Linked DNA regions of Homo sapiens. The protein of the gene in region 3 purifies or fractionates together with the protein of the main gene of each other region. This does not show direct contact. Each region holds a gene or a part of one and is shown on either strand. Other genes may lie near its edges.

What was found. The genes of interacting proteins can lie anywhere in the genome.
Region 1: the proteins of TUBB3 (region 3) and TCP11L1 purify together in Homo sapiens (affinity purification with mass spectrometry; 3 studies listed by BioGRID and IntAct, with this or other methods). This does not show direct contact.
Region 2: the proteins of TUBB3 (region 3) and AIFM1 purify together in Homo sapiens (affinity purification with mass spectrometry; 3 studies listed by BioGRID and IntAct, with this or other methods). This does not show direct contact.

Annotation. Positions count from the first base shown.
Region 1 is NC_000011.10:33,056,556-33,063,592, reverse strand, and holds part of TCP11L1 (T-complex protein 11-like protein 1), read right to left. Parts: intron 6,479-7,037; coding exon 6,358-6,478; intron 5,675-6,357; coding exon 5,454-5,674; intron 4,635-5,453; coding exon 4,498-4,634; intron 2,079-4,497; coding exon of another isoform or gene 2,064-2,078; coding exon 1,867-2,063; intron 1-1,866.
Region 2 is NC_000023.11:130,155,821-130,162,857, forward strand, and holds part of AIFM1 (apoptosis-inducing factor 1, mitochondrial isoform AIF precursor), read right to left. Parts: intron 784-7,037; coding exon 641-783; intron 1-640. UniProt on the Homo sapiens protein: Functions both as NADH oxidoreductase and as regulator of apoptosis.
Region 3 is NC_000016.10:89,933,342-89,936,634, reverse strand, and holds the end of TUBB3 (tubulin beta-3 chain), read right to left. Parts: intron 3,168-3,293; coding exon 3,057-3,167; intron 1,907-3,056; coding exon 831-1,906; 3' UTR 538-830; downstream 1-537. UniProt on the Homo sapiens protein: Tubulin is the major constituent of microtubules, protein filaments consisting of alpha- and beta-tubulin heterodimers. Microtubules grow by the addition of GTP-tubulin dimers to the microtubule end, where a stabilizing cap forms.

The DNA.
Region 1 (7,037 bases), on a different chromosome or scaffold from region 3:
AACATAAAAAGAAAAAAATATTGTTCAGCATGGAAGGGGAAGAAGTTTCTTTAGATAAAGCTGTGAACAACCACACCTCTGTTGTGGTTTCCATCAAGATGAGTAAAAACAGGAGAAAAATTCAGCAGCACAGACTGGAGCCTCATACATTGCTGGTGGGATGGTAAAATGATGCAGCTGCTTTGGAAATCAGTTTGGCAGTTCCTCAAAATGTTAAACTTAAGAGTCACCATGTAACCCAGCAATTCTAATCCTAGGTACGTAACCAAGAGAGGTAAAAACATATGTCCATGCAAAAACTTGTACTGGAATATTCACAGAAGCATAATTTATAATAACAACCCAAATGTTTGTCAACTGATGAATGAATAAACAAAATGTGGTACATCCATACAGTAAAATATATTATTCAGCCTAAAAAAGAAAGGAGGGCTGGGCATGGTAGCTCATGCCTGTAATCCCAACACTGGGAGGCCAAGGAGGGAGGACCACTTGAGGCCAGGAGTTTAAGATCAGCCTGAGTAACATAGCGAGACCCCTGTCTCCACAAAAAACACACTTAAAAATTAGCTGGGGGTGGTGGTACACTCTTGTAGTCCTAGCTACCCAGGAGGCTGAGGCAGGAGGATCACTTGGGCCCTGAAGTTCAAAGTTACAGTGAGCTGTCGTACCACCTAGCCTGAGCAATTCAATGAGACCCTGTCTCTAAAATTTAAAAAAATTTTAAAAAACCCAGAAAGGGAACACTGACACATACTACAACATAAATGAACCTTGAAGACATTATGCTAAGTAAAATAAGCCAGACCCAAAAGGACAAAGATTGTATAATTCCACTCATATTAAGTACCCGGATTAGTCCAATTCACAGAGACTCAAAGTAGAATGGTGGCTGCCAGGGGCCAGAGGGCGGGGGCAATGGGAATTACTGTTTGGTGTGTTTGGTGGGAAGACAGTTTCACAGAAGGAAAAATGAAAATGTTTTGGAGGTGGCTGGTGGCAATGGTTGCACAACAATGTGGATGCACTTAATGCCACTGAACTGGACAACTAGAAATGGTTAAAATGGTAAATTTTATGTTATGTGTATTTTACCACAACAACAAAAAAAACACAGTGGAAAAGAGGACTAAACTACTGCTATATGTGCTACAACGTGAAAAAACATTGGTGAAAGAAGCCAGGCACAAAAGGCTGGTAGTGTATGATTTCATTTAAATAAAATGTCCAGGATAGGCAAATCCATAGAGACAGAAAGCAGATCTGTGGCTTCAGGCGTTGGAGGGAGGGGGGGAGGGCAGTGACCGCTGATGGATGCAGCGTTTCTATTGGAGGTGATGAAAATGTTCTCAATTAAACAGTGGCAATGGATGCGTAACTCTGTGACTATACTAGAAAACACTGAGTTGTACACTTTAAAAGGGAGAATCTTCTGGTACATGAATTATATCAGAATAAAGCTATTCTTTTTATTTTTTATTTTATTTATTTACTTATTTATTTTTATTTTTTGAGACAGAGTCTCGCTCTGTCGCCCAGGCTGGAGTGCAGTGGTGCAATCTTGGCTCACTGCAAGCTCCGCCTCCCAGGTTCAAGCAATTCTCTGCCTCAGCCTCCCAAGTAGCTGGGGCTACAGGCCCCTGCTACCACGCCCAGCTAATTTTTTGTATTTTTAGTACAGAGGGTGTTTTGCCATGTTGCCCAGGCAAGTCTTGAACTCCTGACCTCAAGCAATCTGCCTGCCTCTGCCTCCCAAAGTGCTGGGATTACAGGAGTGAGCCACCGTGCCTGGCCAAAGCTATTCTTTTTAAAAAGTTCAGCAGCACAAAAACAAATATGAGTAGTGAGATGGCTCAGGAGACCTACTTCGGGGAACGGCCTCTGGAGGTGGTCCCACTTCAGAAGCTTCAGGTAAGCGTAATTCTGGACAGCAACAGGGCTCAGCCTGGGCATGTCCCCAGAGCCAGCAGCCATTCCCCCCACTGGCAGGGCGTGTTTATACTTCTGAGTCATAAGGTCCTCTGAGGCTTCTTCCAGCCACTGGGTGACAAAGTCCAGGGAATCTGTGAAAAACAAAGCTGCACACATTACCTTGACACCAAGAAGGGATGCTTCTCGGAATTACTTAAGGGACAATCGATGTCCTGGTGGAGTGATAAAGTATAAAGTATGAACTTTGGAATCAAATAAAACTTGGATCAAATCATAGTAGTGCCAATGACTAACTGAGGGATCTCAGGCAAGTCATAATGTGTCTGAGTTTCAGATGCCTGATATAGGCAAATTTACAACACCCACCTCACAGGCTGTTGTGAGGATTAAACAAGATAATGAATAAGCCAGGCATGGTGGCTCATGCCTGTAATCCCAGCACTTTGGGAGGCTGAGGTGGGAAGACTGCTTGAGCCCAGGAGTTCGAGACCAGCCTGGGCAATGTGGCAAGGCTCTGTCTCTACAAAAGATACAAAAATTAGCTGGGCATGGTGGCACATGCCTGTAGCCCCAGCTAGCTGGGAGGCTGAGGCAGGAGAATCACTTGAGTCCTGGAGGTTAAAGTTGCAGTGAGTGGTGATCACACCACTGTACTCCAGCCTGGGGGACAGAGCTAGACCCTGTCTAAAATAATAATAATAATAGTAACAAATACATGACACCTAGCCAGGCCTTGCCACCCACCTGGTATTTAACAAACCTTCCTTCCCTTCTCTCCCATCCTGACCACTGCATGAGATGGACCCCAAAGCCCTGGCAACTCCAGCTCTAGAGACAGATAGGATGAGACACCAGCTAGAGTTTCCCTGTGTAAAGTATCCTCTACACTGATGATGAGGCTTTTCCTTGTTTAGATCTTAACCTTGTATCAATCTGGCTTCCTTTCAACCTGGGGGAAAGTGAACTCTGTCAGGGAAGCCCCATCTGGCTTTCAGCAGCCCTCCTGCACCCCTGCTTTTCTAAGCTTGGTAATGCAGGGGGCACTCTGAGGGATACAGAGAGAGAGCTGGAGGATCTCACACATCATCTGATAAAAACTGCACCTGTCAGGTCCCAGCAGGTGTTGCAGCTCTGTTAGTGGAGGCTTCCTGCTTCCTTAAAACCAAGTGGGCGGCCAAGGTCACAGCTGTGGTTTGCTCTTCACTGGGGCAGGGGGATGCAGCTCCAGTTTACCCTGAGCTCTCGGTCATGACTCCTGGGCCATCTGGCTTCACCCTCTCTTCTGCTGATAATATTCTCCGTAACCCCCCAGCTTTGGGAAACCCAGGCTTTCATGTTGTGAGTTAAGTGCTAGATGCAGGCACTGTAGCTGCTTCCACCCTACCAGTGAGTCCTCCACTATGCCCCAGCTTCCAGGTCCAGGCCTTAATATTACGGCTCTTCAGGCTACAAAACTCTGCCTAGCGGAGGTTGCAGTGAGCAGAGATCGTGCCACTGCACTCCAGCCTGGGTGACAGAGTGAGGAGACTCTATCTCAAAGAAAACAACAACAACAACAAGAAAAAACTCTTCCCAGTACTCTCACAACACTGGTGAGAGTGTGAGCTTGTGGTCAATCCATTCTGGTCAAAAATCTCCCAAAACCTGTTTCCAACATCTGTAAAATGGGATTAAAAAAAAGGTGCCTGGCTCATCAGCTTACTGTGTGAGGATTACATATGATCATGTACATCCAGCCCTTGGCACAAGCCTGGCACTTAGTAAACATTACCAAACTTCTTCTACTTCTACCTCTACCCTGTCCTTTCTCAACCTGCCCCGGCCCCAGCACTACCTCAGACTCCTCTGCCTGGGGCTGGATGAATCAACTGCATGGGGCATTCACTTAACTAATCTGGTCAGGCAACCCAACCAACCCAGAGACTGCTGTTTTCATCTCCTCGTCAGCAAAGTTAGAGGCCAAATGGAATTCATCATACATTGAATCTGAAGACTGAAATTTACCCAGAATGTCAGTTAGCAATGCAGAGACCATAAAAAGCACCCTAGAAATACAACGTAGTTTTAGATTCTGAGAGTCGTCTGTTTTCTGCAGTCATCGGAGAGGTTCATAAAAATGAGACTCTTCCTGGGTATGAAACAAGAAGATTTATGCATCCAGAACAAAAGCAAAGTTAAATTTCCTGCTGTGCCACACAGGGAGAAGAAAAGTGAATTAACATTCACAGGATGTCTGTCATGTTTTCAAAAATCAAGACCAAGAATGTATTTTACTTCAAACTGGTGTTTTCATCAAAAAACCATTTATAATTTAGGAATTCATTGTTTTTAATTTCTATTCTCATAGCCTACTCACATTCCTTTTGCTTGTGAATTAAGTTTTCTTTTCAATGCTTAACAACTCTAGATGTAGTCCCAACATTTTGTGCTTTTCCTTCTTCAAATTAGACTATTCTCCTACTAAATTTTAGTTTTGTTCTGAAAATAATATTATGCAACAAGCTATGGCAGCTAAAATGAAAAACCACAGACAACAAAAAAAGTACCACAAAATATTCAACATACTTGGTTGCCTCTCCAAAATCTCTTGAAACTTCTTCCTTTCGTATTCAACTGACTGCTGCATGAGATGAGGCCTGATGCTACTGATAGCAAAGTTGGCCATGTCCACTTTCATTAGGTCCAACACAGAAAAAATTTCTCTGAAAGAAAAAAGGATTTAGAAGCAAGCATTTGTAAAGTAAACATAGCATTAAAGGAAAAGAGGACCAGACGCGTGGCTCACACCTGTAATCCCAACACTTTGGGAGGCCAAGGCGGGAGGACTGCTTGAGCCCAGGAGTTCCAGACCAGCCTGGGCAGCATAGCAAATGTGACAACATGATAAAAACTGATGGATCCACATGAAGGGCTTGTGAGTGTTGATTGTACTGTTTTTGTAACTTTTCTGTAGGTTTGGAATTTTTCAAAAGAAAATGTTGAAGGAAATTAATGTATAAAAAATATATCTATGTATCAAAATGATAAGAGTGATTATGCCTCTGAGAGGTAAAATTATGAGTAAATGTCTTCTTTTTACTTTTCTGCATTTTACAAATTTTTTTTTTTTTTTTAAATCCATGAGTACCAAGACTTCAGGAAGTTTAAATTGAAAATAGTTCTGGTCTGGGCACAGTGGCTCACGCCTGTAATCCCAGCACTTTGGGAGGCCAAGGCAGCCAATCACGTGAGGTCAGGAGTTCGAGACCAGCCTGGCCAACGTAGTGAAACACCATCTTTACTAAAAATACAAAAATTAGCTGGGCACGGTGGTGCGTGCCTATAATCCCAGCTACTCAGGAGGCTGAGGCACGACAATTGCTTGAATCCAGGAGGTGGAGGTTGCAGTGAACCAAGATCACGCCATTGCACTCCAGCCTTTGCAACAGAGTGAGACTCTGTCTCAAAAAAAAAAGAAAAGAAAAAAAAGAAAATGCCTCTGAATTGTAGTTGCACGGAGTATGATTAACATATTTCCATACCTGAAAAGGGGCACTATTTCCTTAATGTCCTTTAGTTTCTTAACTTCCTCATCTCGAGCAGGTGCACACAGTGTCCCCATCATGCCAATAATGAATTCTGCCAGCTTGGAAATGTCTAGCGCCCCATTCTCTGCTTCCTGCTTTATCAGATCCAGATCCAAGACTTCTGTTATCTGGTTTCTCAGTCTAGTATGACCAGGCAGCAAGAAAGATAAGAGAGTCTACAAGAGAACACAGCTACGTTTAATCAAAATTCTTTAGACATCATTTCTAATTATATGTAATTTATAACTATCCAAATAAGGGCTTCTCAATTGCTACGTAATATTGCACATATTTTACTTCTTATTCAACAAACCTACAGAAAAACATGTTTACAAATCATTTACAATAGCTACTTAAGCTTCCATTTAAGCCCTAGGTAGCAATTAAATGGATAGAAGAAAAAACTGTTAATGGTGAAAAAAGAAAAGCATGTTTATTAATGTGAGCCTGTGAGCCAACCATAGCTGATGACAATTTCCATGCATACATTTCTTCTTTGATGCTACTGCTAAAGGCGCTGCAAAAACAGTCCCTCCACCTAAAGCTTTCTCTGTCCCAAAGGCTGAGTCACTTTTTGGCCATTATAAATGGAATGTGTCCACACCTATTAAAATTTATAAATAAACTAGATTTTGTGAAATAACTTTGTTGTCTTAAATGCCTTCAGGTTATCATGGTTTGCTTAAAACTTTTTTTTAAAAAAGGGCATTAAGCCAAAAACACTCTTGATCCACCTTCTGGCAAGTACTTTAACTTCTTGATCCTTCAATTTCTTTAAAGTCTTCTGGTGGTGACACAAGAAGTTGAATAAACACTCCTAACACACCAGAAAAGCATCACAATTCACTCTTTGCCTCACCTCTTTGATTTCTCCTACAAGTTTGATAGCATGGTCATATGCTGGGGGATCTTCACTTAGCTGCACACTCAAGCAATCCCAAAACGCTTTATGTACAATCTCCTTTACTCTCTTCTTCAAGCTGGGGCAGTGAAAAAAAAAAGGAGGGGGGCAAAAACCAAAATATTTGAGTTTCAAATCACTTTCAAAAGCACAAATACTATGGGTTTAGGGTAAGATCAATCCCAGTGATTTGGACCAAGGAAAGATTTCCCAGGCATACTTCAACTGAGGGCATACTTTATTTTAAAAGTTAGTGATTTTTTGCAATAAGCATCTCATTGGAAAGAATCGCTCTCAACTAACTGGATAGCCAACATTAATCCAAGAAACAGCATATGACAGTGCCATATAATAAGAATATTGGAAAGTTCAAAGCTGTTAATTTTAGTTCCCTGTTACTAGTAAGTTTCCTAAGATGTTTATAATTAGGTAGTCTAAGATAACAATTTAGGCTGGGCGTTGTGACTTACGCCTGTAATCCCAGCACTTTTGGAGGCCGAGGCAGGCAGTTCACCTGAGGTGAGGAGTTCGAGATCAGCCTGGCCAGAGGTTGCAGTGAGCCGAGATAGTGCCACTACACTCCAGCCTGGACAACAGAGCGAGACTCTGTCTCAAAAAAATAAAATAATAATAATAAG
Region 2 (7,037 bases), on a different chromosome or scaffold from region 3:
ATAATTCCTCTGTGACCTGCTAAGCTGATCGGAGTTCATTTAAGGAGATATAATGGTGCTAATACTACATAGCAATTAAACACCATATTTCTCACCTCAAACAAACTCCATTCTAAAATCAGTGATACTAGCCCTGTTTCTGTAATTTAGTCTTTGGGTAAGATTCAGGGATAGCTTTCCTTTTAGGAACACTTAATATTTTTGATTGAAGGCTGTTGTTTTTTTAATGTGAACCTCAAGCTGAGGAAATAAAATGTCTGACAAATAGGTCAAAATCAAATATTGTGCTAAGGAGCTGCAATGGATTTTGACTTTATTCACAGGTTAGTGTGTGACATCCAAGAAAACAGGTACAATTTTGTGGGTTACTCGAATCTAGGAAAACATAGTGGCTTTCAAGTAAAGAAGAAAAAGACAAGTGAAAAGAGCAGAAATCAATCAACATGAGATTAAATTTCAGTCATTCCAGAATTGGCTCCCATAAGATATTAGGCAGCAGGCACTTAAGAGAAGGCTTTTTGAAAATTTTTCCAAAAGGAGAAAGGGGAATTAGTTGCAAAAGTTTTAAAGCAGAATACTATCGAGTCTATTAATGGGAGCTGTTTGGCAGCTTCTTTATACACGCTGCTTTTCTACTTACATAGGCACCAGCTCCTACTGTTGATAAGCCCACAATAAGGACTAACACAGAATTATCGATTTTGCCCCCTGATGCACCAGAGCTAGCCATTTGTCTTGTCATCTGGAGTTCTAGAGGAACATGCCATCGCTGGAACAAGTTGCCTAAGAAACATAATTTATTAAGACACACACATACAAAAATAAAATAGTTAATACATATTTATGATTAAATGTCAATGCACTGTACAAGACTTATTGCCCACAGATATTCACCGTTAAATGATCAAGAAAAATATCATCAAAACTGCATATATAAATACTACAGACAGCTGAATGAACGCTCTTAAGTTGCTGAAGTTTTTAAGAGTAAAATTTAATGCTGTCCAGTGAGAAAATTTTCAGCTTCCAGAAAAGATCATGAAAAACACGAACAGTTCATCAAATACCTCTTCCTTCATGTCTTTCCCATAAATTAAGTAAACACAGAGAGATGACTGAATAGGTAGATATACAAAGTTAACCATGGGCTACCTGGGACATTATAACAACCATTTAAGGAGTAATCTAGATGGTTCCAATCTTGCACAAAATAAAACGCAACACTCTAACCAGGACACAGTTCAATCTTGCATGAAAGGTAATGTGTCCTGGAATACAGAAATGTTAAAGCTCAGAAGAAAATCAGAAAAAAAAATTTTAATGAGTTTCTCTCCCCCAAAGAACTAAAAAATTTTGGACTATGAAATATTTTTTATAATGACAAAATGTGAAGTGTCCAGCAACTCCTTGACTCTTACTCCTCCAAAATAATACAAAGGTTATTTTGACGTAAAACTATGCAGAGCTATGTAATGATGTGATGATCATAACAGCACCTGTACATAGAAATATAAGAGTTCTGTAGATTTCTTTTTCTAGGGAGACGCTGACATTTTCAGATAAAGGAAGGTCTCAGTCTCTGATTATTCTGTGATTACTCCTCGTGTTTGTTGACTATCAACCTAGAGCAGCAAATTTTTTCTGCAAAGAACCAGATGGTAAATATTTTCAGCTTTCTGGGCCATTTGGTGTCTGCTGCAACTACTCAATTCCACTGATGCTGCATAAAAGCAGCCAAAGACAATACATAAATGAATGGATGTGGCCATGTTCCAATAAAACTTTATGGACACTGAAGTTTAAATTTTATATAATTTTCATGTGTCACGAAATTCTTTTTTTTTTCAGCCGTTTAAAAAATGTAGGTCAGGCGTGGTGGCTCACGCCTGTAATCCCAGCACTTTGGGAGGCCTAGGTGGGCAGATCACGAGGTCAAGAGATCGAGACCATCCTGGCCAACATGGTGAAACCCCGTTAAAAATTAGCTGGGCAGGTGTGGTGGGGCATGCTTGTAGTCCCAGCTACTCGGGAGGCTGAGGCAGGAGAATCGCTTGAACCCGGGAGGCGGAGGTTGCAGTGAGCCGAGATCGCACCACTGCACTCCAGCCTGGCAACAGAGTGAGACTCCGTCTCAAAAAAAAAAAAAAAGAAAAGAAAAAAGACCAGGTGCAGTGGCTCACGCCTGTAATCCCAGCACTTTGGAAGGCCGAGGAGGGTGAATCACCTGAGGTTGGGAGTTAGAGACCAGCCTGACCAACATGGAGAAACCCTGTTTCTACTAAAAATACAAAAAATTAGCCGGGCGTGGTGGCTTATGCCTATAATCCCAGCTACTCGGGAGGCTGAGGCAGGAGAATAGCTTGAACCCAGGAGGCGGAGGTTGCAGTGAGCCGAGATTGTGCCATCGCACTCCAGACTGGGCAACGAGAGCGAAACTCCATTTCAAAGAAAAAAAAAGAGAAAAAGAAAAAAGAAAAAAAATGCAAAACCCACTCATGGCTCCTGGGGCATACAAAAGCAGGTGACTGACTGGCTTTGGCCTGTGGCTGTAGTTGGCAGACCCCGATCTAGAGCAGTGGTTTTCAAACTTGAGAGTGTATCCCAATGCCCTGAAGGTTTTATAAAACAAAGCTGGCCAGGCCCCAGGCCCAGAGGTTCTGATTCAATAGATCTGGGATGGGGCTCAAGAATGTGCATTTCTAACAAGTTCCCAGGGGATGCTGCTGTTGCTGCTGCTGCTGTTAGGGTGGGGACCACACATTGAGAACCATCTGTCTAGAGCAGGTATATCCTATCTTTTGGCTTCCCCGAGCCACATGGGAAGAAGAAGAATTGTCCTGGGCCACATATAAAATACACTAACACTAACCATAGCTGATGAGCTAAAAAAAAAAAAAAAAAAAAAAAAAAAATCGCAAAAAAATCTCATAATGTTTTAAGAAAGTTTACAAATTTGTGTTGGGCTGCAGGTTGGACAAGCTTAGTCTAGAGGCTGATACTTATGTCCCTGTCCTGTCTAGGCTTTAAAAGACAAACAGAATGGACACTGGTAGTAGCATCCCATGTATACTTGCAGAGATTAGAGAAGGAATTTCCCCCTTGCTTTCATAACGTTAGGCCACAGACGGGTAAAAACAAGCCCAATGTGGATCTGTGGTCTCTCATCTGAAATCCTGGGGACCATGTATAATTTGGAACTTTGAATTATCTGGTCTTAAGTATATGGGGCATATACCACATAGTGACACCTAGCAAGGTAAAGGGCAGCAATTCATAGTTAAACATATTAATATGACCAATCACGCTAAGTGATATTTTAAAAAGATTATAAAGTAGCCTCTCTCCAGTTCAGGTCAGGTTTTACTGGCAAATGAGTTATGAAAACTTGATAGTCTTAAATTTTGGTCATTCTACAATTTCAATTTCTGAATTACAGATAAGAGACTTTAGATCTACACTCTTAGAAAAGGAAATGTATTTTTCTTTACTGTTCTTCTTACCTGCTTTTAGAACTCTTCATCACCACATGAAATAAAATGGTTGAGATTTGGAAATAATGACAAATCATGAAAATAAAAACGTGAGCGGGGCAGAAACTTATCTCAATCTGGGCAAGCTTTTGATTTTCAGAAGCTTACAAAAATAATGAACCATCAGAAGTAGAAAGTGGTAACTCTCAGAGCTTAGAAAATGAAACTGGTTAGGAAAAGTTCCATGTGATTTAGTTCAATGAATTTAGTTTGTCCTCCACCTCTACCCCTGGTTCATTTACTAAAAATAAATTTTTTTTGTTTTTGTTTTTCTTTTTTTTAATTCTGTTTATTCCTCCAGAAGACCCTAAATACAGACATTATAACAAATTTGTTTTAATATCATACTCATGTTTATTCTCCTTCTGCTTGCTTTTCACAAACTGATAATACTAACAGTGTAGATTTAGGAAAGTTCAGCAGCTTTTGTCTCAATTTGCCAAAAAAAAAAGAAAAAAGCATTTAAAAGTAAATGGACTTTTTTTTTTTGAGACAGGGTCTCACTCTGTCCCCAAGCTGGAGTGCAGTGGCACAATCTCGGCTCACTGCAACCTATGCTTCCTGGGCTCAAGCCATTCACCAGCCTCAGCCTCCTGTGTAGCTGGGACTACAGGCGTGAGCCACCAACGCCCAGCTAATTTTTCTATTTTTTGTAGATACGAGGTTTCACCATGTTGTCCAGGCTGGAAAAGTAAATTGACTTTAAAAAAAAGTAAACTGGTTAATATTTAAACTACTGCTTGAAAAGAAATGTAATACACTACTCTCATTAATAAACCAACTTTTAAAACTTTTTATATACCTACAAAGTGACTTTAATTTTGTAAAATGTACTAAGTATTGTTTGCTTACATTCCCCCTCCCCACATTTTCTTTTCCCTATGAAATTCCTCCCAAACCTTTCTCCCCATAGCTTCAAAATTTTAGGAAATATTACATCGTGACTGAAACATGCCTTTTCACTTGTCTTACTAACATGGAAAAGCCAACTTACTCCTTGACTTTTCATCATGGCAGCAGTTTACTTATTTTAGGTTTTCTGCAGTCAGACCACACATACAATGCAATTTCTTCCTCACACTTAGGATTTCATTCTTAAGAAGCCAGTTTGACCTGTGCAACAGCGCCAGACGACACACAGATGTTTGCTCAATAAATATTTGTTGAATTAATGAAGGAAGGAAATAGAAATTCTTCCTAATTCTATTGATATTGACTGAACATTCTTATTACTATTAAAATTTTTTTTAAATGAAAAGGTATCAGTATGTTGCCCAGACTAGACTCAAACTCCTGGGCTCAAGTGATCCTTCCACCTTAGCCTCCAGAATAGCTGGGACTACAGGCATGCACCATCGTGCCCGGATAACTGAACATTTTAAATAATTCTTTGCAAAGAAATTTTAGCCAGGGCAGGCGCGGTGGCTCACATCTGTAATCCCAGCACCTTGGGAGGCCGAGGTTGGTGGATCACTTGAGACCACGAGTTTGAGACCAGCCTGGCCAACATGGTGAAACCCCGTCTCTACTTAAAAATAAATAAATAAATAAATAAATAAATAAATAAAATGAAAAAATAAACTTAAGAGTTTTTTTTAAAAAAAGCTTTAGCCAGATTCCATTTATTTTAGGTTGCTTAATCATAAATGAGTAACCTCAAACACCATAGACCAGCATTAGAATAGTAGCTAAACTAGCAAGTTCATTTCTGTAGGTTTTGTGATTTCCTGTTTTTCCATACTCCCAAAAGGCGTTTTCCAAAAACACAACTTCACAATTGAGGCACCCAGGGATCCTAAATGGTTAAGAGATCTATACGTTCTTGAGACTTGTTTCCTGAGGGTCAAACTGATTTTTCCAGCATGGAGAAAACACAGGACAGCCAGGTGCGGTGGCTCACACTTGTAATCCCAGCACTTTGGGAGGCCGAGGTGGGCGGATCACGAGGTCAGGAGTTCGAGACCAGCCTGGCCAATACAGTGAAACCCCGTCTCCACTAAAAATACAAAAATTAGCTGGGCGTGGTGGCAGGTGCCTGTAATCCCAGCTACTCGGGAGGCTGAGGCAGGAGAATCACTTGAACCCAGGAGACAGAGGTTGCAGTGAGCTGAGATTGTGTCACTGCACTCCAGCCTGGGCAACAGAGCAAGACTCTGTTTGAAGAAAAAAAAAAAAAAAAAAACACAGGACAAGCCTAGATAGTCTGTCCATTGTAGATAAATGATTCTTTACAAGGGATCCAACAACTATTTATCAGCCTTTTTTTTTTTTTTTTGAGACAGATTCTCGCTCTGTCGTCCAGGCTGGAGTGCAGTGGTGTGATCTCGGTTCACCGCAACCTCCACTTCCCGGGTTCAAGCAATTCTCCTGCCTCAGCCTCCCGAGTAGCAGGGATTACAGGCATGTGCCACCACGCTTGGCTAATTTTTGATTTTTAGTAGAGACGGGGTTTCTCCATGTTGGTCAGGCTGGTCTTGAACTTCCAACCTCAAGTGATCTGCCCACCTTGGCATACCAAAGTGCTGGGATTACAGGCGTGAGCCACCACGCCTAGCTATCAGCCTTTTTTAATTTTTTAATATCAACCCTTGCTGGAATTTTAGAAGAAACAGAGTAGTAATAACTATAGTACAGCGTGAACCATTCTGATGAAAGACACACAAGGAAAAATTATTTAGATAACAAAATAAAATCTCTCTTCTGCAAAGTTAAGTCCTTCACAATGCTGTACTAGGGTTCAGTCACGAGAATTTACCATGTGCCAGAGATGGTACAAGATGCTAAGGACACAAAAATAAATAGGACATAATCCATGTCCTCAGGTAGTGTTTAATTTAGGAGAATGGCTGCTACTATTCTGAATATGAGAAAATGAGCTTGATACAAATCACAAGAGACTCCAGATTGCTCAGTTTGGTTTTTTAATCCTTACGTCAGCAAAACAGAAGGGGAAGAGTCACTACTCATCCAAAACAGTATATACCAAACTTGTCTGATCATATGAATGTCAAGGGGCTTGTTAAAATACAGATTCCCAGAATTATCTCCTGGAGAAGGTTAGGAACTGGTTCTCTACTCGATTCACATGAGCAGGCAACTTTTGGAAACATGATCTAGAAGAAAGCTAAGACATGCAGTAACTCCCTCAAAAAGTTAGAACATTTCTAGAAAATGTAACTTATTAACTGGTTACAGAAAGGGCTGAGCTGCCAAAGAATTTCTTCTGCAAAGCCTTGTCTCAGCAGAAACAACGGGGGAAGACTCATCTTTTAGGCTTCAAAACGAAGTCACATTTGGCAGTGTCCAGGAAGCCAGGATCCTTGCCCACAAGGAGCTCAGTTTCCTTTTTAAAGAGGTGAGAAGGATTCCAAATAGAGAAAAACGTTCAAACATTTGAACCTAAAGTCAGGGAGTCGGTGATCAGTTTGATAACATGGGCAGCACTGTTTGGTGACCAAACAAAATATTATAGAACAGAAAATGTCTATTATCTAACCTATCTGCTCC
Region 3 (3,293 bases):
CGTCCCTCCCGGCAGCCCAGGCCTGCGTCCTGTGGCCGCATCTCCCTGACCTCAGCAGCCCCTCCCAGGGCCCAGCCCCGAGACACTAAACACACCGTCTTTTTCAGGGAGCACTCGGGGCCCCCTTCCCTACCTCCCTGGTTGTGACCCGAGGCTTCAGGTCTGATGGCAGTTTCCACCGCAGGAGGGACCACCTGCCCCAACTTTCAGCCTACAGACAGGTGGGAGAAAAGTCTGGGGTGCAAGCCGCTCTGTGGGAGGCCAGGGAACGAGTGTGGGGTTATTTCCAAGTCGGGAGGGCTGCATCTTGAGGTCTGGAATGAGGTACTTCCCGTTCCTTCTCCCGGGCTTCCCGTTTCCGGGGTCTCCCCACGGGCTGTGCCTTGAGACACATTCCGGCCCCCAGCGCAGGCCTCTCTCAGCCGCCAGCCTGGGAGAGGATGAGCTCTTCTTGCCTGTCCACCCGGGCCTCCCTGTCAGCCCCTCCACCTACTGGACACAACTTTCCAGAATAAAAGGACATCTCTGGCACCAAGCAAGGGTATCTGACAGCAATAGATTTATTAAGTATCCCCGAAAATATAAACACAAACCAGTAAAAAACAAAACCGTAAAACGTCAGGCCTGGAGCTGCAATAAGACAGAGACAGGAGCAGCTCACACGTGGCCTAGGTGGGGAGGACGAGGCCATAAATACTGCAGGAGGGCGGCAAGGGAGCCCTAGGGCGAGGGGAAAGCAGGGTGTCGGCAGCAAGATGGCTCCGGGGGTTTAGACACTGCTGGCTTCGGCCCCGGCCGCCACCTGCCTCTCACTCCAGCTGCGAGCAGCTTCACTTGGGGCCCTGGGCCTCCGACTCCTCCTCGTCGTCTTCGTACATCTCGCCCTCTTCCTCGGCCGTGGCGTCCTGGTACTGCTGGTACTCGGACACCAGGTCGTTCATGTTGCTCTCGGCCTCGGTGAACTCCATCTCGTCCATGCCCTCGCCCGTGTACCAGTGCAGGAAGGCCTTGCGCCGGAACATGGCCGTGAACTGCTCGGAGATGCGCTTGAACAGCTCCTGGATGGCCGTGCTGTTCCCGATGAAGGTGGAGGACATCTTGAGGCCGCGGGGCGGGATGTCACACACGGCCACCTTCACGTTGTTGGGGATCCACTCCACGAAGTAGCTGCTGTTCTTGCTCTGGATGGCCAGCATCTGCTCGTCCACCTCCTTCATGGACATGCGGCCCCGGAACACGGTGGCCACCGTCAGGTAGCGGCCGTGGCGCGGGTCGCAGGCGGCCATCATGTTCTTGGCATCGAACATCTGCTGGGTGAGCTCGGGCACGGTCAGGGCCCGGTACTGCTGGCTGCCCCGGGCTGTGAGGGGGGCGAAGCCGGGCATGAAGAAGTGCAGGCGCGGGAAGGGCACCATGTTGACGGCCAGCTTGCGCAGGTCAGCGTTGAGCTGGCCCGGGAAGCGCAAGGAGGTGGTGACTCCGCTCATGGTGGCCGATACCAGGTGGTTGAGGTCCCCGTAGGTGGGCGTGGCCAGCTTGAGGGTGCGGAAGCAGATGTCGTAGAGCGCCTCGTTGTCGATGCAGTAGGTCTCATCCGTGTTCTCCACCAGCTGGTGGATGGACAGCGTGGCGTTGTAGGGCTCCACCACCGTGTCTGACACCTTGGGTGAGGGCACGACGCTGAAGGTGTTCATGATGCGGTCGGGATACTCCTCACGCACCTTGCTGATGAGCAACGTGCCCATGCCGGAGCCCGTGCCGCCCCCCAGCGAGTGGGTCAGCTGGAAGCCCTGCAGGCAGTCGCAGTTTTCACACTCCTTCCGCACCACATCCAGGACCGAATCCACCAGCTCCGCCCCCTCCGTGTAGTGACCCTTGGCCCAGTTGTTGCCGGCCCCACTCTGACCTGTACAGGGAGAAGAGGGGTAAGAGACAGGGGCCAGGGACTCTGCAGTCCAGACCTCCAGCCCCTGCCTGAACATCCCAAGGGCAGCCGTGGCAGCCCCATGCCTGTTCTGTCTTCTGTAAAGTAGGCCCCACTGAGCACCCCTTCTCATACCCGCCGTGGCTTCCCTGAGCCGATGCTGCTGAGTGCTCAGGACGAGGGCTCTGGACAGAGTCTTGAGAACTTGGGGTCACAGCAGAGCGAGGCTCTGCCTCCTGAGGGGATCCTGGGTGAATGGATCAGCCCTCCTGCTCCAGCATACCTTCCTTCCGACTGGCAGTGCCAGGAGCCCAAACAGCCACCCCAGAATCCCTGGCAGCTGGGGGCTGGATGCGAGTTGGCATCTACCAGCTGGATGTGCTGCGGTCGGGAAGGCAGAAGTGAAGCGAGGCCCTCCTGTTTCTGTGGCGCGTCCACGGCCCCGCCCCAGGACACAGACATGGGAACGTGGCATCCACGGCCCCGCCCCAGGACACAGGCATGGGAACGTGGCATCCACGGCCCCGCCCCAGGACACAGGCATGGGAACGTGGCATCCACGGCCCCGCCCCAGGACACAGGCGTGGGAACGTGGCATCCACGGCCCCGCCCCAGGACACAGGCGTGGGAACGTGGCATCCACGGCCCCGCCCCAGGACACAGACGTGGGAACGTGGCATCCACGGCCCCGCCCCAGGACACAGACGTGGGAACGTGGCATCCACGGCCCCGCCCCAGGACACAGACATGGGAACGTGGCATCCACGGCCCAACCCCAGGACACAGGCATGGGAACGTCCTGATCTCTTGACCGCAGCAAGGCCTCGTGCTCCTGGACCCCGGAGTCCTCTGGAGGCCCCGTTCTGTCTCACCAGCTCTCTAGCAATTCTGTAAGCTTCTGTCTGCTTTACACTTCATTCCACTTGAAATGCATGAGTGGTTTCTGTTCTCCCCACAGAACCCTTTCTCTGGGCCTCCAATGCCCAGCTGTAAAATGGAGAGATGAGTTCCCACCATTCAGGATCATGTGAGGAGCTGACCATTCCTTGTTTCTCACAGCCGTCCCCGTCCACCGACCTGGGCTTGCCTGTGATGGGGTCTGCCATCAGAGCTTGGAGCAGGGGGAACTTACCAAAGATGAAATTGTCAGGCCTGAAGAGATGTCCAAAGGCCCCTGAGCGGACACTGTCCATGGTTCCGGGTTCCAGGTCCACCAGAATGGCTCGAGGCACGTACTTGTGAGCTGAGGGGAGAGAGGGGCTCGGTGATTCGGGTCACAGAGGGCCAGAGCCTCTCCCTCATTCTTTCTGAATTCTGTGCCCGCCTGCCATCCTCCTGCTCACATCCTAAGAGCCTGTACTCTGAAGTC